2 linked regions of the Homo sapiens genome follow. The protein of the gene in region 1 interacts with the protein of each later gene in a pairwise test. Each region holds a gene or a part of one and is shown on either strand. Other genes may lie near its edges.

What was found.
Region 2: the proteins of LRCH1 (region 1) and TMEM14A interact in binary tests that used the Homo sapiens proteins (3 or more experiments, as listed by UniProt).

Annotation. Positions count from the first base shown.
Region 1 is NC_000013.11:46,687,596-46,698,449, forward strand, and holds part of LRCH1 (leucine-rich repeat and calponin homology domain-containing protein 1), read left to right. Parts: intron 1-256; coding exon 257-384; intron 385-1,537; coding exon 1,538-1,601; intron 1,602-4,940; coding exon 4,941-5,046; intron 5,047-7,297; coding exon 7,298-7,422; intron 7,423-10,854. UniProt on the Homo sapiens protein: Acts as a negative regulator of GTPase CDC42 by sequestering CDC42-guanine exchange factor DOCK8. Probably by preventing CDC42 activation, negatively regulates CD4(+) T-cell migration.
Region 2 is NC_000006.12:52,671,789-52,682,642, forward strand, and holds part of TMEM14A (transmembrane protein 14A), read left to right. Parts: intron 1-5,298; 5' UTR 5,299-5,314; coding exon 5,315-5,384; intron 5,385-10,024; coding exon 10,025-10,126; intron 10,127-10,854. UniProt on the Homo sapiens protein: Inhibits apoptosis via negative regulation of the mitochondrial outer membrane permeabilization involved in apoptotic signaling pathway.

The sequences.
Region 1 (10,854 bases):
TTTTGTTAGAGTTTTATAGTTTAATGCAAGAAAAAATGGGAAATTGCTTAAGCATGATTTTCTATTCAAAGTAGAATTTGGAGGGAATGATTCCCAAAATTCTTACATGTTTTGGAAAGGACGGATTTAGTGTACATTGGTAGGGTGTTACTTAAAATGAAACTGGGAAAATTGAAATATACAGAGTAAGGATTTGATACTTACATTTTGTTTTGTCATTGAAAAATGAATATGATTGCTATTAATTTCTTTGTAGATTTGCACAAAGGGCAAAGTTCACATATTTAAGTATCTGAGCATACAAGCATGCCAGATTAAGACAGCTGACTCCCTTTATCTCCACACCATGGAGAGGCCACATTTACACCAGCACGTGGAAGATGGGTGAGTCATGCCCTCATTCAAAGCCCCAGTTTAAAATTTGCCTAGGCCAAGGCCCTCCAGGTAGCTGACTTCAAAATCTGTTTGTTTTAAGTCACCATGGTATCTGCAGAAAACAAAGCAAAACAGAACAATTTGGTTTAATCACCTAATTTGTATTTAAAACAAGAAGTTGAGAAACTATTGGGATATGAAAGAAAAAACTGCTGCTATTGAGAATATTTTGGTATATCTCAAATATCATCTGTCTCCTAATCAATAATCAGTTCTTCCTGAGTAAATATGTGCATACTTATAAATAAGATCTAGAATACAAATGTGAATATTTTTTACTTATCAAAATAACTATATTGAGCCCAGACATGCCTTTTTAGCAATTATTAATGTTGAATATGCCTCCAGAACAATGTTAAGAAAAAAATGAAGGCTTTATTTTTGGTCTTTTAAAAATGCAGTATGTGTAGTTTTGTCGCCACTTCCTGTTTCAAATGGAAAAGTTAGAACCCTTTCACACATCCTAGAGCTTCTTGTGGCATAAATCAAGCCTTGAGCTTCCAAAAAACAACATTCTCACACTGAACACAGTTATAGAAATGCAGGTTCTTTTTAAGAAGTCTTCACTGCAGAAATCTTTTCCTTCACTTTTTGCTACATAAGTAAATTTAAAATTTTGGACTACTCTAATGTTACTTTTATATAATGCTTAAAATATGTACACTGTTTTATGTACTTAATCCCTGGATAAAAATTTACAGAATTATTGAAAGTAACCACATTTCATAACATAAGGGGTAAAAGCAGTTATGTGGTTTATTAATTTTTTATATGCTAGATGCAGTAAAATAAGAACATTGGTAACTATTTTTAAGAAACACCTTGACATCTAAGAGCAAGCCACTTGATTAGAGCATAAATCCATGAAACCCCGAACACAAAGAATTTTATCTTATCCTGTGTTTAGACTGTGCTACTGTCTGATTTTCATTAGGTCCATGTCTTAATATTCTTTAATACTAGACTGATTTGTTGCCTTATGGTAATAATAAAAATTTGCGTAGCAAAATTATTATTAGAATATAAATTGATGTTTCTTGGTGTGAACTTTGTGATTTTAATCTTTTTTAAATGAATTCAATATTGATGGCATCTATCTCAGCAAGAAGGATTCTGATTCGGGAGTTGGAAGTGATAATGGAGATAAGCGATTATCTGCCACCGAGGTAAAGTTAGTGATCAGATTCTTTTCCTTCTGTACTTCTAGACATATCTACCAGTGTTCATTGAACTCCTTTCTGTTAAAGGGCATCGATTCATTTGTATATTCATGTGATATTCGTAAAAGTGATTTGTATATTCATGTGATTTGAAATCCTCGAAGTGTTATATAAATATTAGCTGTTGTTACTTATTCTGCATCTTTAATATCTTTAATATTTTGTAAATGCCTCAAGAGTGGAGTCTGTATCTTCTCCTCTCCTACACATTATCTAAAATATTATTGAGTGCTCAATAAATATTACAAAATGGCTAAGTAGTACGCAAGTGCCCGTGAAGCACTTTTATACATACGCTTATTTTTCAGTAATAGAGTAATTTAGAAAAACATTGTTATACATATGCGTAAATGTTAAGGAATCAACTGTACATTTTATTTTAATAGTTGATCCACAGGAAATGCATTTATGAGTAGCTATAGTTTTTATAACAATGTTTGTTTTCCTCAGACTCTTAGATTGTGTTCTGTTCTGTTCTGTTCAGTTAATTGGATACAAGTTTGGTTACTTGCAAGCTAACAGGCCTCACACATTAGAACTTCCTATAGTGGTTATAAATCATGCTTTGATAACTGATTTATTATCTCACATGTAGTCTATTAGAGTCCCCAAAATCTAACACTAATGTATCATTAAATGGAGCTTCTTGGCCTCAGGGATCTAGAAAGGAGTGGTAGGAAAAGTATCAGGTGCTCTTCTTTTTTTGAGGGAAGTTACTTTCTGTAGTTACTAAGTTAACATTATAATACTGTGAAATTGCAGTTAATAGGCCAGTCACCCCATCAAAGAAACTCACATTTTTTTCTATGTATGACTCCAGGAAAAAAACCTTTCTCCAATTCTCCTCAAGTCGTTGAATTTTAATAGGTAGCTAAGGTATTTGAATTTATTTTTCACAAAATACTCTATATAGCAGTATATTAAAAAGTGGGATTCTTTATCTTTAAAAATCCTTCTAATATAGAGCATTTTGAAAAGAAGAAGAGTTAGTAGGCAGAGAAGGCCAGTGTCAATAAAAGAAAATAACCCATAGGAAGGCACATGAATAGTTTACCGTGCTTCAGTGGGAGAGAGGGGATACTAAACACATTGCTTTAGTTGCATTTTAATTCATCCTCTTCAACTCCTAAGTCCTCGCAAATGGACCATTGTTTCAGAAATTACTCACCCTAAGTATATTTTCTGTTAAATTAAACAGACTCTGCTTTATCTCTCTTCTAAGGCTAATTAAACTCATTAATAAAACATTACATAAAGAACTTCATTATCCTTTTGTTGTCACTTAAGCATAAGTAGGATGCTAATATCATTCTAAAAGGAGCCCAAGGATTTATTCTGTGCCTTTTAATTAGATGCATATCTTTGGAATTTTGCTAAATTTTTAAGATGAGAGGTGGGTAGAAAGAGAAGGGAATACAGAAAAGATTATATTCAACAGAATGAAATGCACACATCTTGCCTTTGGCCTTTCCTTGTCTTATATTACAGCCTCCTTTCCTAAGTACACCTCCAAGAAATTTATTTTTTAGAGTGATAAGTGTTCCAAATTATCTTACATAGCTTCCTATTTTCACTTGGTTTGGCAAAGATTTTACCATCTATGATCAGGTGATCTTACTTCCCATTTAGATGACATTGTGGGGTTCAGGGATCACACCTCATTCTTTTTCTTTGGCTGCTGCCATTGATTGATTTAGCATTTGTCACTGAGAGATTAAAAACATCTTTTTATCAAGATAAACAGGAAAGTGTGGAGCTCTATGAATATTTGTTGAATGAATGAAATGCATGCCTAATTTCTGCCAGTTTCTAAACAATCTGTGCATATGTCCAAAAGTAAACAAGGACAGACTCTGAAAACCATACCTCAAGAACTTAGGAGCAAGCCACAATCTCCTGAAATGTGTTTTGTGGAGGTTCCTGATTTTTGAGATTTGGAAAGCTATTTCCTAAGTAGCAACAGTAAAATGGAGACATAGGAAAATAAACCAGGCTCCATATTTCAGAATCATAGGTTTTCTGAATAAACGTCATCAGCTACTGTGGGAAAGGAAGCCCTCAGAGAGAACTAATCCAATTATTAAAGCCGAAGCTTTCTTCCAAAAATCACACAGAGCAGTTCTTTTTAACTACTACAGTTGTTTAGCATTTTTATATATGTGATGCAGCTTCCTCAGCCTAAAACAGAGAAATAAAACAGGCACCCGTATTAGTTCATTCTTGTGTTGCTATAAAGAAATGCCCGAGGGTCGATAATTTATAAAGAAAAGAGGTTTAGTTGGCTTACAGTTCTGCAGGCTGTACACAAAGCATGTGACCAGCAACTGCTACTGGCAAGGGCCTCAGGGTTGAAGGTGAAGGGAGTGCCTCCTGTCACATGGTGACAGCCAGAGCAAGAAAGCAACGAGGTTGGGGGAGAGCAACGGAGGAGGTGCCATGCACTTTTTTTTGTTTTTTTAAGACGGAGTCTTGTTCTCTTGCCAGGCTGGAGTGCAGTGGCGCGATCTTGGCTCACTGCAACCTCTGCCTCCCGGGTTCAAGTGATTCTCCTGCCTCAGCCTCCCTTATAGCTAGGACTATAGGTGTGTGCCACCACGCCCAGCTAATTTTTGTATTTTTAGTAGAGATGGGGTTTCACCATGTTGGCCAGGATGGTCTCGATCTCTTGATCTTGTGATCCACCTGCCTCAGCCTCCCAAAGTGCTGGGATTACAGGTGTGAGCCACCACGCCTGGCTGATGCCATGTACTTTCAAACAACCAGATCTCACATGAACGCATAGCAAGAACTGCATAGACCCTTCTTGAGGTATCCACCCCCAAAACCCAAACACTTTCCACCAGGCCCCACCTCCAGCATTGGGGATTACATTTCAACATGAGATTTGGAGGGGACATACATCCAAACTGTGTATCAGTACCTGACAAGATTTCAGCTTAAAACAGAGAGAAGAAAACACAGAGAAGCCCATAAGTGTTAGCTCCATGAATTTTCACAATGTGAACACACCCGTATAACCAGCTTCCAGTTCAAGAAACAGAACTTTACCAGCACCCCAGAAAGCCCCACCCCGACCCCAAGAATAACCTCTTCCTAATTTTAAATACCATGGATTAGTTTTGCATTTTTTGAACTTACATAAGTGGAATTGACCTTTGTATCTGGCAACTTATATTCAATATGATATTTGTGAGAATCACAGGATGTTGTTTTATTACATAGCATTCTCCTTATCTACATTGATAACACTTCTCTTGAGTTAAACAGTGCACTGTATCTTTTTAGCCTTCTGACGAAGACACTGTTAGCCTCAATGTGCCAATGTCAAACATCATGGAAGAAGAACAGATCATCAAGGAGGACTCGTGCCATCGCCTTAGCCCCGTTAAAGGTCTGAGAATAAAAATGTGGAGAAAGTGCTTGTTTTTCAGTTTCAAATGTTATGTTTAAAATAACCTGTGCACAGATAGGGCAGTGATAATCTTTCTAGAGTATGTCCTATGTACCAGGTACTGTGTTCTTCTGGGAAGTTGAGCTGATTTAAAATTTAAAAGTCAAAGATGGATACTCTAATCATCTCCATTTTATAGGTGAGAAAACCAAGACTCAGAGAGTTTAAGTAACTTGCCATTGGTCACATAGCTGATGTGTGTGTAGTACTACTTCCTACGGTACATAGTAGAACTAATCTCATTCTGAAGACTTAGATAAAATTCTTTTTTTTTTTTTTTTTTTGACATGGAGTCTCGCTCTGTCTCCCAGGCTGGATGGAGTGCAGTGGCGTGATCTTGGCTCACCGCAACCTCCGCCTCCTGGGTTCAAGGGGTTCTCCTGCCTCAGCCTCCCGAGTAGCTGGGATTACAGGCACCTGCCACCATGCCCGGCTAATTCTTTAAATCCATTCTTGGAAAGAAAATATTGATATGATAGATATATTAGTTAGGAAAACTCTAGCTGCCGTAACATAGATTCCCAAATCTCTGTGGCTCAACACAATCCAAATTAAGTTCAAATGGAGTTAGTGATTGGCAGACAACTCCCCTCTGAGTATTGATTTAAGGACCCAAGCTCCTTTCATACCATGACTCCATCATCTTTAACACAGGCCTTCCAAAACTTTCATGTCCATCTGTTTTAAGCCAGAAGAAGAGCGTGGAGGTTTGCTCGTGGGAGGTTTTTATGGACTGGGTCTGGAAGGAGTGCCCATCACTGATAAGCTAGACTTCATCCCATGGCCACATCGCACTGCACATGAGGGTGGGAAATGTAGTTGAGGTGTGTGTTCAAGAAGCTACTTGACTTTGGCCCAGTCAGGTGACCTTGATTCCCTCACCTGTACATGAGATGATTAGATTAGGTAATACCAAAGGTCCAGTGTAGCTTGAAAATTCTGTGGCTCTTTAATAATCATCAAATGACCACTAAACACTGTCTTGTGTGCCTTCAAGATCCTTGTAATACGTTTCATATCTTGGTTGGAAGCCCTCATTGGGTAACATTAAGGCGATTTTTTGATTGCCCCTGTTTCCCCATGACTTTTAAGGAAAATACAAGCATTTAGTTTTACTCATTTGTGGCAGAGACTGTTTCACAGTGTATAAATAGTGCAGAACTGGATTAATATACAGATCTTCTCATAAATAGTTGGAATTTGCTCTTATTCATGATAGGAGAGCTGTTTAAGTTCACTCAAACCTTAGTGTTGGCTTTCACTTCTTACACTTCGGTTTTTAAGTTTAGCATTTCTGTTTACCTGAGATTATCATGGGAACCATATGTTGTCTAAAAACATAGCTGTATGCTTTATATACAAATATAACTGCCACTTTATTAATTCATATAAAGTTAGTAATATTATACACTGTAGGAGGTAGTATTTTAGGCAAATTTTTCAAATAAAAGAATTATGTAATTTGTTACTAGTGGGTGTTCCCCCTCTCGTCTAGATGTGGGTATTGCATTGGCTCAGAGTGTTTAAAGGGTGGCCCAGTATGGTTCTTTTTCATCTTCAGAACAGTTGGAAGAGTTCTGCAGGGTGTTCCTTTTGCTCCCCCACCTCCCCTGGAACACATTCTAGGTGGAAGTGCCACATCTGGGCATGCTGTCACCTCTGTGTGGCCCTTCTTGTAGACACTTCTTTTGCTGTTATGATTTGGGGCTCTTGCCTAGTTCCCCTCCCACATTCTTCCTTGAGATTATTTGCTGTTTAAGGACAGGAGTCAGATTTGGCTGATTTTTTAATCCCTAAAATGTTTAGCATAATACCTGCCATTTAGTAGCTGCTCAATATTTGTTGGATTTTAAATATGAAATACATAGTAACATATTACTGAGGGCAAAAAAGCCTCTTTTATACTTTCTTTTCTCCATTCCTTAAAAAAGTAAGAGAAAATCTAATTTTTCTCATAGGGAACTGAGCCCAGAGAGGCCTTGACTTTTTAAGCTCAGTTTGGGGCTTTCTGGGGTTATTTTATTTTTATCTTTTCCTCCCTGCAGGGAAGAGAAAACTTGGGTTTTTCATATACCTTCTTCATAGGGAACACAGAAGACTTGAAGTGATTAGATCATATTTGAAGATCAGCTGTGTTTTGCTCTTCTGTTCATGAAATCATGCTTTCCATCTCTCTATATTTTCCTAATAGGGGAATTTCATCAGGAATTTCAACCGGAGCCTTCCCTTTTGGGTGACAGCACCAACTCAGGAGAAGAAAGAGACCAGTTTACTGATAGAGCAGATGGTCTCCATTCGGAATTTATGAACTATAAGGCAAGATTTTCAGGATCAACTACGTTTTTTTACTTATTTCCTTCTGTTTGGCACCGTACAATTTAAGTTGAAGGTTGCCAATCCATCCCCTTCAATGTCCAGCTTGCTGCACCCTCCCTGAAGCGTTCCAAACATCTCAGCGCTCAGCGTGTCTATTTGCTGATGTGAGGAGCTGGTCCCTGCCCTGTGTGCCTCTCCATTTGTCTGTTTATGGATCTGATTTTCTTTCCGCTACTCAGTGCATCGTACAAATTAGCAAACTCATTAGTGTGACCATTGCCACGCAGTAAAAGCTGAAATAGTTTCACATTCTTTTCAACATGTTCTAGGTAAATCCTTTTCTTGGGAGTATATTTATAGTGTGAAGACAAAAGTGGAGACTTTTAAAATTGATAAATGAATGTCTTTCCTTTTTGGAAAGATCTCTCTGAGGACACTTATTCCTGAACTTTTGTAGGTGCCCCGAGGCATTGAAAGGACAGGTGAAGTTGCCGAGTTGTCAGGAAAACCTTCATCTTGGCAGCAACAAAGGGAGGAAAGAAAAATTAGCCCTTTACTGAAGCAGATACTGAAGGTTCTACTTCACAACCCGATTAGGTGCTTGGTATGTTTCTGCCAGCCCTTTTGGTTCAGGTTGTGGTGCCCAAGAATCATAAAGATTATTGTTTTTGTAAAATTCAGATTCACTGTGGCTTCGAGGTAACTTCTGAGTTATTATGTTGAAGCCAAGAATGGGATCCCTAAGTACTCATCTTTATTTTCTGAGCATTGTGTCCTGATGGCTGGACCCAGCCTAAATTAACATCTCTGGGCATCACCTTCAAGGAAATGGAGAGGAAAACAGCTGAATTTTACACTGTAGGAGACCTTCGTGTGCTCAGGACATGTTTATGGCCTCCAGATAAAAATAATGAACGTGACATATGTTTATAGATTACAGAAGTTGTGTAGAAGGATAAAACACAGTCTTAACTCTTTACTTGCTATATTTAATGTCATTAATCCATACATCCTTGTTTTAAAATAGGTCACACCCATTGCCTTGTTTCTGTCCCCTGTCTCCATTGACATTGCTTCATTTGAGCCTCATAGTTTCTCACTTTGATTACTTCAGGCACCACCCCGCCCACTCCACTTCTTACCCAATGCTGCACCCGCGTGCATGCATGCATGTGTGTACACACACACACACACACACACACACACACACACACACTCTTTATATTCTGCCACCAAACATTTTTCTAAAGTGCAAATCTAATGACATTCCTCTCAGGCCACTGGTTCTACAAGGCTTCCCCAGATTAGACCCTATCTATCAGCTCTGTGGGACGATTCTTCCATGAAAATGTGAAAATTGGAGTATATCGAGCATTCATCTTAAGTTAAGAATCTAAGGTAAAGATGGAAACCCTGAAGAATGTGTTAAGAAGATATCAATATTTAAGTTCTAGAGGAAACAAAGCAGTTAGTAAGAATAAAGCGTATTGTTTCAGGAAAGCAAATTTCCCTGGATTCAGAGATTTCAAGGACTTCCTGGAAATGGCTGCCCTACAGAATGGGTCCTGTAGATGGAAACTAGAGGAGCAGATAGGCGTGTGGAAGTCAACTTGGCAAAGGCTTTCTGGAAGATACTTCTCTTGGAAAATCAAAAGAAAAATGTTAATGATAAAATGAACATCTACAACAAGTTAAGGAAAAATTGTGCTTGAAAATCAGGCCCGTATTAGGCTTGATATCCATCAACTTTAAGTCTTTCAACCTGTGCTTGGCCTGGCGGAGTGAATCACACCTGTAATCCCCCACTTTGGGAGGCTGAGGCAGGAGGATCACTTGAGCCCAGGAGTTCAAGATCAGCCTGGGCAACATACTAAGATTCCATCTCTACAAAAAAACAAAAGCTAGCTGGGTGTGGTGGTGTGCTCCTTGAGTCTCAGCTACTCAGGACACTGAGGAGGGAAGATCACTTGAGCTTGGGAGAGTGAGTCTTCAGTGAGCCATGACTGCACCACTGCACTCCAGCCTGGGTGAAAGAGTGAGACCCTTTCTCAGAAAAACAGAGTTCTATGCTTTACATAATCCTGTTTTCTTTACTGAATAAGCATCTTGGACCTTTGCAACCACAGTCAATTTTCATTATTCACAGCAGTTATGTTGTGTGACATCACTGTGCATATCGAATTATCCAATACTGAGCCCTAACTCACTGGGGAAATAGAGGGCTGGGTTCCTGCACCCTCTGCTCACAACGTTTTTGTCAACCAATCAGCACACAACCTTGGTGTGTGTGTATTTCTGTTTAAAGATACCTTATTTAATATATATTGTTTTGATGAACATTACAACCATACCTTATTTAACATATATTGATTGATGAACATTACAACCAACAGCACTGTAACTCATGCCCGAAGGAAGCTTGTCTAACACACGTATTGTCCTCTGTAAGGCATATCACAACTTCCTTGGGCTTCTGAACACAAGGCAGCACTTCAGTACTATGTCTGGGGCCATTTTAAAGTGAAATCACCAACAAAAAACACAACAGTGTGAAAACATGGCACTAACTAGACTGTGAAAAAGGACACTTATTTACAATAAGAGAGCTGAAAGAAGAAAGCAGAGTGTCACCTTGTTCCACCTCATCTGGGAACATACACATCCTGGGACTCAAATTTTTTACCACTCTGTAGATGTCTGCAGATGACCTCCAGAGCACCACGAATACTGGTTTTGGGACTAAAAATACATGTTGGTGAATAGGCAAATTCACAAATGCAGAATCCACAGATAATGAGGATCAACTGTAAAACCATTTAGCTTAGCAAAAGCAACCCAGTACGCCTGTTTTGCCTAATGAAAAAAAGAGACATTTTATACTATTGGCTACTTTTAGTTGTGAAACAAAAAAATAAAAAGAAATACCCTTTGCTTCTATCATTGAAACCCAACAAAACGAAGTAAGAACACGTTGTCTTGGTCATTTCTGGTAGTATATTTTTACCCATGAATTTTTCTGTCATTTGGAGTGTGGAGAGTGGCACAGTCTTTTATACGTTGACTGTATTGTACATGAAAAGTATAATCACTACAGAAAAAGTCCAAGTGTGTTCCCAGCCAGAGTCCAGCATTGGGCAGCTAGCCATGTCCTTGGGAAAAGTCTTGTCCTAACAACACATCTGGAGGACTGGCTGGTCCCCAGTTAGCTAATGATATGCCAGAACCTTGACACCAAAAATGGTCCTTTTGGCTGGTGTTCTCTCCTAGCTAGGGAAATGTGGCCCTATTCAGGCTGGCTTTCATTCTAGCCATGAGCTGGGTTAAAGCAGCGTTTCTCTGTGTCAGAGATGAACGTGCAAGGAGGCCTGTGGAAGGCTCATGGTGGTACATGACTTTCCAAATAGCCAGTGTCACTACATTGCCGCTTTGGGA
Region 2 (10,854 bases), on another chromosome or scaffold:
CAAGATGCGTTTTAGTCCTTCCAAGGCTTGAGCATCACATTTGTGATGAGAGCGTGTGATGTGCTGTGCACATCCTCTCCCACCTTATCCCTTCCATGTTAACACAGCCTCTGGCTTTAATGTGTGCTTCTGGCCTGGCCACATGGCTCCGTCATGGAATAGGTGATTCTTTTGTCTGAATATTCTCTGTGAGAACAGAATCTTCTTGCAAGCATTGGGAGTAGATTTATTTTGCCTCTTTAGAACAACAGTCAGTTCGCTAAGGAGATTAAGGGGCTACCTGTTTCCTGGCAATAAAGCTGTATTGGGTAGGTCAGTTACAGAATGTCTTCAGGCAGAAGCTGTTCCTTTGGTTCACTCACTCATTTATTCATTTAACAAGTATTTTAAGTACCTGCCTTGTGCATGGCAGGGTTCTTGGTGCTGTGAGGAGGACAAAGATAAACTGAACCTTGGTTTGCCCTCAAGGAGCTTGGCTGGCTGAGAGTTGAGAGAATCCCAACCAAGTAAAAGGGTATGGGTCCTCAAGAGAAGATCGCAGGAAGAGCTGGGGGGCTCAGGATGGAGTGGAATTAATCTTTCACAACAGCTACTTAGCTTTAGGAGAAAATTAGGTCTAGAAGTTACACCTGATAATGAAAGAACTCTCATAAGCTTCAGATCTGTATGTAAGGGTGTTTTCCGGACTGTGTGTTGGGCGTCTCAGACTGAATACATTCTAAACAGGTCCCATCATTCCTAGCCACCTCCCTCTTCCCACCGCCACACACCTGCTGCTGTTCCCATGTTCTCTGTCTCAGGGAATAGCATGAGGCTCCCCGACTCCCTACTTCTCCTAATGGTCTAAGCCAGATACCTAGGGGTGAGTCATCTCTGATTCACCCCTGACTTTCCCTTCCCGCCTCAAATTCAATTCTGATTCTACCTCCTGAACTTCTGAAATCTGTCCACCTTCTCTCCATTCTCATTGCCATTTCTCTAGATAAGCCTACCGTTATCAACTAAGCTCTTGCTTACTTTACTGCAACAGCTTCCCGATTTATCTCCCTGCCTCACTTCACAACCCATCTTCACTACTGCAACTGGGAAGTGCTTGCTGGAATTTAAATCTGATTGTGAGGCTCCCTTCAGTGATCCTTCATTGCCCTTAGGACGGAACCAGACTCCCTTTACGGGGCTTATGTGGGTGTACAGCCCTGTCTTTCTCACCAGCACCCTCTCTTTTCACAAGCCCCTTGCACTTTTCATTTTGAGAACATGCTTTCTTGTGCCATTAGGGCCTTGCACATGCGCTCCCTTCTGCCAGGAACACCCTTCCCTGCACCCTCTTCACTTGACTTATTCATGCTCCCCTGTAGGGTAAATGCACCTGACAGCAATAATTAAAGCATACCCTTAGAATGACCCTGTGTGGCAGATGAACCTGAATGTGTTTTCTGAACTAGGGAACCCAGGCCTGCCCAACCCAGAGATTTATTTCTTGTCTATGAAGAACATCTGAGCCCCTGCCCCACCTGTCCCATAGAACAGGGGCCATACGGGGAATTGAGGCCTTGAATTTTGAGTTAAATCAAGTTGCCAGGTAGAGGTCATTGAGGGGAGGGTGTTAAGTGAAAATGCTGCATAAATTGCATGATGTTTGCAAGCGGTTGTTTTCCTGCCCAGCTCACCACCACTGGACTCCCTCCTCTGTTTGTAAGCCCCTAATGGGTCTCTTTTGGCCTCTTGAACCTGTTGCCTTCCTTATTGAGGTTAATAGGGGTTTGGCACAACATCTCTCCAAGGTCCCAGCTGGGACCCTGTTTGATCTGGGCATCCTTAGGCTCCCAGTCCTTGCTGGGTGCCACTCCTTGTTATGGTACCCACACCTCTCCTCTTAGGGCTCATTCACACATCTGCCTCCTACAGCTGTGTTGTACTATAGTTCCTGGAGGACCAAGGCCATGTCTTAGCACTTACCATTGCTTCCTGCTGCCTTGCCTAAAGAAAATGCTAAATAAATAGCTGTTAAGTCGAATTGACTACAAATATATGTTATAATACTATGGTATGATTCATTAACTAAATTACAAATTCACCCTACCTCAGTTTTCTCAGTGTGCTGAAATAGTAATAGCCTTACACATGTCAAGCTTAAAATAGGTGTAAGGGTGAATGAGAAGAGTAATCATTGGAGCAGCTAATATTTGTTGAGTGCTCAGTATGTGCAGGCACTGTTCTAAGTGCTTTACAGTATTAAATCATTTAATTCTCAGAACAATCCTATAAGGTAGATATTTTTGTTATCCCTATTTTAAAGATGGAGAAACTGAGTTATTGAGGTTCCACAGCTAGTAAGTGGTGGTATCAGGTTTGAAGATAAGCATACTTTATAGCATATGGTTAGCTCCTTTAGAAAGATAATAAGTAGGATCAAACATGAGAAGTTCATGGGGCTGAACATTGTAAGTTACCAGATGGAACACAGTGCCCTGTGGTCACAACTTTAAGCTATGAAGAGCATGTGATTGATCCAGAATTGAAAACTCTGAAGAACATGTTTGGTTTACATGTTCGCTTTTTTTCAGCAGCTAACTCAGTTATCAGAGGTGATGTTGCATAGAGGTTAGGACTGAGACTTCCCTAAGTCAGAGATCTTTGTTTTGCTGTATAACCTTCAGGCATTGCTTGCATTCTCTGTGTGCCACTTTCCTCATCTGGAAAATGAGGATAATCATGACAGTACATACCATAGGGTGTGGTCATGATTACATGAGTTGATACACATAAGGCACCTAGAATGCCTTAGAATGGCACCTAGCACATAGTAATTGCTCAAAAACATTATAACCTCTTTATTATTATTATTTGTTTAGCCATCATTCAGTCAGCAAATGGTTTTTGGACCCAGGTTCTCCCTACATGCTACATCCTACTGTACCACTTCTCGGCCACAGATGAGCTCTCCTGTTTTAATTCTCCTTCCTGCAGATGATGAGCATTTTTCAGTGTTGCCTCCTTTTTGGTGCTGTCATCTCCTGTGCCTCAGCTTCCCTCCCCCATACCCTTCCTCATAGTAAGTTCTAGTGGATGACTCTGAGATCAGCTCAAAATTCTTCTTCTTTTTTTTTTTTTTTTTTTTTGAGACGCCCAGGCTGGAGTGCAGTGGCACGATCACAGTTGATTGCAACCTCTGCCTCGCAGGTTCAAGGGATTTTCCGGTCTCAGCCTCCTGAGTAGCTGGGATTACAGACATGCACCACCATGCCACGTCCGGGTAATTTGTTGTATATTTAGTAGAGAAGGGGTTTCACCATGTTGACTGGGCTGGTCTCAAACTCCTGACCTGAAGTGATCCACCAGCCTCTGCCTTCCAAAGTGCTGGGATTACAGGCGTGAGCTACCTCGCCTGGCCCCTTTTTATGTTCTACATTAATTTATTACCAATTGATAATGGGAGATAAAAGGCCCATTAACCTAAATGATAAGCAATGAGAAAATTGTAAAAATATGCAAGGAATCTCACTTACCATTCCTCACATTTACAAAGATAATTACCTTCCCTGTGGAAGAAATATAGACGTGAGAAAGCTCAGAAATAAAGGCACCACTAGGGGTCTTAGAACTTAAAAAGCTGTAAAGAACTCCAGAACTCTTTTCATCTATTCTCCTAACTTGCAGGGAGAGTTGAGGGTGAGGGAGGGGCATGGTCTGAGGCCCAGTGGCCACATCTCTAGCCTGTGGCTGGCACGCTATCTACTGCATCTGAGAGAATTGTGGGCAGGGTTTCAGTGGAACTTCTCACCACTGGGTATGTTTCAGCTGCTGCTATGATGCACAGTAGGATGTCATTGTCATCCATTTAACTTCATGCTGGGGCTATATTGTATTCTTTAGTGATTTGCCATTGATTAAGTGTGGATGTCTCTGCTACCACAGAAGAGCTATCTTGCAAGGAAACTAATGACAAAGCCATTGTTTAAACTGAATTAGTCAATCTCCAAGAAGACATCCATCTGTAAAGAATGAGAGGACTAATATCTGTACAGACATGAAAGAATTATAAGATGGAATTGTGGAAGTTAAGGAATTTAGAGGAGGAAGAAGGCATTTGCTCCAGATCACTTTGATAGTACAGACTAGAGTCAAGGAAATTAGGAGGTAATTAATAAGGGTAGAAGTCAGGGGAGAAGGTTTAAAGGGAGGTGGCATACAGGGGATAGTCGGGCTTTTGGAGGTGGACAGGGAGGGAGGACATTTCAGGCATGGAAGTGAAAAGTGAAGATTGTAGTGTCACAGTTCAGTGAAGAGACCTGGCTGACCAGAGCAGAAGTTTTATTTGGGTAAGTGGAAAGAATTGAACAGCTGAGAGTATGGCAGATCTTGAAGACAGGCAGAGGAGAATCAGCTTGAGGTACCCCCCAGAGTGTGCTTAACAGTGATGAGGATGAAGGGGAAAGTAGAGGGTTGGGAGAGGTGAAGTTTGAACCTCTTTTTTCCCTTGAGACAGGGTGTCACTCTGTCATCCAGGCTGGAGTGCAGTGGCACAATCACGGCTCATTGCAACCTCAACCTCCAGGGCTCAAGCAATCCTCCCAACTCAGCATCCTGAGTAGCTGGGATCACACGTGCATGCCATCACACCCAGCTAATTTTTTGTATTTTTACTAGAGATGGGGTTTTGCCATGTTGATCAGGTTGGTCTCAAATTCCTGGGTTTAAGCCATCTACCTGCCTTGGTCTTCCCAAGTACTAGGATTACAGGCGTGAGCACCATGCCTGGCCGAACTTCCCTTTCTTTAGTAGACTAGAGAAATTAATTTCTGTAATTCTGTGGAATGTCTTTGTATTAGTCATTCTCACACTGCTCTAAATAACTACCTGAGACTCGGTAATTTATGAAGAAAAGAGGTTTAATCAACTCAACTTCCGCAGGCTGTACAGGAGGCGTGGCTGGAGAAGCCTCAGGAAACTTATAATCATGGTGGAAGGCAAAGGGGAAGCAAGCATGTCTTCACATGGCGACAGGAGGGGGAGAGCACGTGAAGGGGGAAGTGCTACACGCTTTCAAACATCCAGATCTTGTGAGAACTTTAGATCATGGAACAGCACTAGGGGGATGTTGCTAAACCATTAGCAGCCACCCCCGTGATCCAGTCACCTCCCACCAGGCCCCACCTCCAACACTCAGGATCACAATTCAACATGAAATTTGGGTGGGGACACACAGCCAAACCATATAAGCGTATCATTTTTAGATACATTCCCTCCCCAAAACTTTTTTATTTTGTATAATTTGTCCTTTCCCCCTTGCTTTAGAATTGCAACCTTGCCAATGGACCTGATCGGTTTTGGTTATGCAGCCCTCGTGACATTTGGAAGCATTTTTGGATATAAGCGGAGAGGTAAGCCTAACCCAAATTTTCATGAAAGGGAATTAGTGGGGGTTTGGAGGTTGTGCTAGGTCATGTGAGGCTCTGTAAGTAGGATGAGAAGCTAAAGATGCCTTAGAGGTGGCTGAAGACCAGCGTGTCTTGGAAGGGACTCATGAAAGGAAGAGGCTTCCGTGGGGCTGAGCATGACAGAGTGTTCCAACCTGGGGGTTCTGGGCCTCTCTTCCACCACAAAACTCTCACTTCACTTCATCATCAGTTGCATAGTTAATTGATTTAATCTCCCTCAGGACCACTGCTTATTATTAAATGAGGATTTTTTTTTTTTGCTTTACATAATCGTGGTACCAAAAAACTGAGTTATATTGATCCTGTGTGTTGTAATGAAAACATTGTTAAATATTCAGTTATCATATCCAAAGTTGTCTCTTCACCTTTGTCCAAAAGAGGGGGGAAAAAAACTCAGGTAATCAATTAAAGAGTTTTCATGGAGAAAAAGGAAAGGTCAAATTTTTTTATTTTACTTTTATTTTAGAATCATTTATAGTTATGATGTCTCCTAGTTATGTTTCATATATATACACAACCTTTAGTCATCTTTCTGACAAACTGTCTCTTACGTTTTAATGACATTTTTTAAATGAAGTTTTTTATTTCAAAGGGTATTGTATTTGTGGCAGTGGTTGACTTGAATTTGAGTGAAAAAGCCAGGTCTACATGGTTACCAGTTAGCTTCCTTCCTTAAAGGCTGCTAAGAAGTCAAAGACCAGAAGCACCGTATAGCTCTTGTAGCTGGGGGGCTGGCAGGTAGAATTGACCATCATCTACGATTCCTTAAAGCCTGTAATTCACCTTGGATTTTTGTTCGTTGTTTCTGTCTTAATGTATGTATTAGAGATGTGTATTTGAAGGAAAAAAAAAGATGATGGCACCAAAGTAAGACCTGTAAACCAAGTACTCAGAGGTTGATGTTTCACAATCTACTTTAGAAAGAACTCAGTTTAAAATGCTAAGATTGTTTTTGAAAAAAAATTTTCACTGTCAAAGACAATGTCTAAATAACTTCTATTACAGAACAGAAAAGAACATCTGGGCATTTTTGCCTGCCTTTATGAGAGGTGGAAAGAAAGTGGGGAGAGAGATATAGAGAGTGTGTGTATGTGTGTGTTTGTGTGTGTGTGTGTGTGTGTGTGTGTGTGTGTGTGTGTGTGGAAGGAATCATTTTATTCTAACTCACATCTCTTCATTGTTTACCAGCTGGTGGGAACAAATGAAATTACATTAGCTGTGAGGTCTCTGATTTCAAGGGCTTGTTGTCCACCTGCACAATATGGTTTCTTGGCCTCCTGCAAGAGCCCCCTACTAAGTGATCCTGGAAGCCCCCAAGGGTATTATGGGTTCACAAGGAAGCTCACTTTGTAGTATAATGTGGGTTAAAAGCATGGGCCACAGAATCAAGCATTCCTGCATTCCAGTCTTGACGCTGCCACTTACCAGCACTGATACTCAGGTGAGATGTTTCAACATCTGGGCCTCAGTTCCTCACCTGTAAATTAATCTGTTAGGATTAAATAAGATGATGCATGGTACACATTTCACATGGTGCCTGGCATAGAATAAAGTTTTAATCTTCTTGTTTTTTTCTGCTGCTACTGCCCTGCCAGTGGGAGGTCTGTGAGCCATGAGGCATAATACCTTTTTCTAGTTTTGTACTCTAGTTTTGTATTATGTTCTAAGCTGCCAGTGGCTCGAATGTCTTAGAATGTGTGTGTAAAGTGAGTTAACTCTCCTTTGACTTAGAGCTTCCCTAGGTATGAGTCCTATGTAGCTGGGCCAGGAGACCCTTCTACGGGACAGTTATTGAGAATAATCTTGGGTCGGTGAAAGATGTGATGTCGAAATGGTGTTTAGTGGGAGGACACAGATGTATCCAAATCCTAAACTAGACCAGCTGTGAGACACAAGTTGGGTTAAACGGAGAAGCTGATAGATTTTTATTTTGATGGGGGTACAGTGGGGAGAGAGGGCAGCCAGTGGCGGGACACAGGATGCTGAGCACTGTGCTTGCCTGGGCTCACCCCTCCTCCCAGGTAGGTCTCCAGAGAGGTGGATGACCAAGAAGATGCTATGATATGGAGGCTCTTCCTAGGCCAGGTAACATCGAGTGCCCAGAGTGAAAGAGGGCCAGATGGCATTCCCTGCCTTGTCCCACACTAGGGCTGAACCAGACCTTACACCTTCCTACTCCAGTTGAAGGGAAGGGCACTGACACAGCAATCCCTTCAGAGAGGTGCAGGTGTGCTTGCTGGGCAGGCTGCTATTTGGACGACCATAAGAGCACCTGCAGGGAAGCTCCCAGATGCATCTTTCAACTCTTTTTAAAACTCCTCTTCCAAGACTGCCCCACCCAGATCAGGCATCCCAGGAAGTGGGAAGGAAAAGAGCTTAGAGCTCCTTTTCTTGTAGCCCCCACTATGGGTCACTGAGCTTGTTCTCAGGATCTTTGCTTTCTTCCACCAGCGTGGTTTTCTTGTAAAACAGCCCACAGTCCTGCCACCTTCCTCAGGCAAGATGAAATGTCTCAAGAACCTTCCTGGTTCTTGCTGCTGGTGAGCCTGCCCCTGCTGTTTGCTGTCTGATCTCATCAAGACTGAAGTGTAGACACTGCCACTTTCTCCACATACTTAAGTGTGCGTGTTTGGTGGTGGTGGGGAGGGTGGGGTGGGGTGATCCTAACAGTAAATAAACCTTCAGGGTATACAGAAAGGAGCATCATAGAATCTCTAGGTGAGAAGACACCTTAATGGTCACCTAGTTGTGCATTTCAGAAAGTGTTTTAATCTCCTTAATATCCTTATCTGGTATCTTCTGCTTGAACATGACCCATAATAGGGGTGCATTAAATCAGTATTTATCAAGTGCTCCTATGTACCTGGCCCTGTGTCTCGCCCTGGGGAAACAGCAATCGCTCACAAGTGAGTAAGGGCAGACTGACATTCAATCCATGAACAGCATATAAACATATGATCAGGAATAGCGGAAGACTATGATGGGGGCCCTTGTTCAGAATGGTGGGTTGGAGAAGACAACACTTAAGCAGACATCCGAAGGTGAGCTACACTTGGCCAAGTGAACAGTGCAGAGACAAGCAGTCTGCACAAGGAACAGTATGTCTGAAAGCCATGACGAATAGAGTTTGGTATATTCAGAGAACTGAAAGAAGGCCAGGGTTCCCACAATATAGCAAACTGGATTATTTTTCCTAAGAGCTTTGGGAAGCACTAAGGTTTTTAATTAGGAGAGTGACCTGTCCAGATGTATGTTTTTAAAAGATCATCTTACTGTGTTTGAAGAATAGCTTTTGGGGGAAACAATGTGTAATTTAACATTATCTCCAACTGTAACATTCTAAGCCACTATATATTTATATATTTATATATATATATATATATGTATATATATGTGTATATATATATGTGTGTATATATATGTGTGTGTATATATATGTGTATATATATATATACATATATGTATATATATATATACACATATATATATGGCATGGATGATTAACCCCGTTTTACAACTGCTAAAACTTAGAGAGGCTAAGTGACTTAGCCAGAGTCCTTTAGCCAGCAAGTGAAAGAATTAGGAGTAGAACCTAGCGTGTTTGTCTTCTCATTCAGAATGCTGCTCTGGTGTGTGTGTGTGTGTTGTGTGTGTGTGTTTGTGTGTTGTATGTGTTGTGTTTGTGTGTTTGTGTGTGTGTGTGTATTGTGTGTGTATGCATGCATGTGCTGCAGTGGTTCTTAACCCTGGCTGCACATTTGAATTTCCAATGGATATTTTAAAAATGAGATGCTTTGACCCTACCCCCCAGGGATTTTAACCTAACAGATTCTAAATAGGGTGAGTTCCATGAAGCAAGGATTGTGTGTGTCTTATTCATAGTGTCACTGCCATGTAACCCACTGTCCAGTGCACAGAAAGTGCTTGGTGTTTGCCACAGTGCTCTGGGGTGGGTATGTGGGTTGGGGGCTGGGAGTGTACTGGTGGGGTGAGTGCATGGGATAGGGACTGGGTAGCTGGGGTCAGTATTCTGATTCTTCGTCTTTCTTGGTAGGGCCTCTATTAGTCCTTGAGTCCTGACATCTTGAGGCATGAAGGTTTGTTAATTATTCAGGATGGAACCATTGCTTGGTTTGTATAGCACTTCTGTCTTTACCTCTATAAACTAAAACTACCTTTGCATCTTAGTTTTTATCATCACAACCTCATTGCAAAAAGGAGGCAAAGAGAATAGGAAAAATTAAAAAAGAAGGGCTTAAGGAAGTTAAATAATTGTCCAAGATCATGTAATCAGTGTCCAAGCCACCAGAACAAGGCAGGTTTTCTTATTTCCCCAAGTGACATCTAACCCCACTGCACTGCTGTGCCCTCAGGGCTCCTCTGCCTTGCATTTGGGTTCAGCAGGAAACAGTCATCTCCTAGAAAGTATCCATGAAGAGGCCTATTCTTAATTTGGCTTTGTCCAGTTACTGTGCCCAAGTAGGAATACATTTGAAGGTGCCTGTATCATACTAGAAGTAATGGAATGAATTCCTTTCCTTTTGGGATTCTCTTTGTGATCTCATATTTTTTTCCCCTTCCAGGTGGTGTTCCGTCTTTGATTGCTGGTCTTTTTGTTGGATGTTTGGCCGGCTATGGAGCTTACCGTGTCTCCAATGACAAACGAGATGTAAAAGTGTCACTGTGTAAGTAAGGCATTTTTCCTGGTTACAGAGACTCAAACATTGGAGGTGATCTTTTTGATACCCTATGCTAGATATACTAGAACATATTTAGTCAAATGGCAAATGGCCATATGCATGTGTTGAGGCTGAATACAACACTTATTCCTTTCTAGAAAGACCTGATAAAAAATGATGGTACTGCTACCAGGCCTTCCAACTCAGAAGAATATTTCTATAAAAACTCGTTACTAGAAAAATTGAATTAGGAAAAGCAAGGAATTATTTTCAGATTTTCTGCTAACTCTCCTAAATGCATATTTAGCATAGTTTTTACATTGCTGTGGAAATAACTAAAAAAGAGACAGCCTTGCATTATTTCATTTAATTCACAAACATCTTTTAGATTCTGCACTGCCTTAAGACTTAACCTAAAAAAGCAAGGCTGACGCTTTTTTAGCTACTTCCCTTGTTAAGTTTAATGGGAGAATATCCACAGAAAAAATGGAAACCTGTGTGTTTAAAGTCACCAGGACACTTGACTTTCATCTCACTTGAAAGAGATACACAGTGAAGATTTAGAAAACCATACCAAGGACATTTTCTCTAGTTGATTTATTATTCAAAGTGCCTTGGTCGTGTATGGAAAAAAATATAAATGAAGACAAAATTGTTCTATATTTGAAGGAGAGTGAGAGATTTGGGGTTTTTTTTTTTTTTTAGTTATTTTTATAAGGGGCTAGGGATATTTT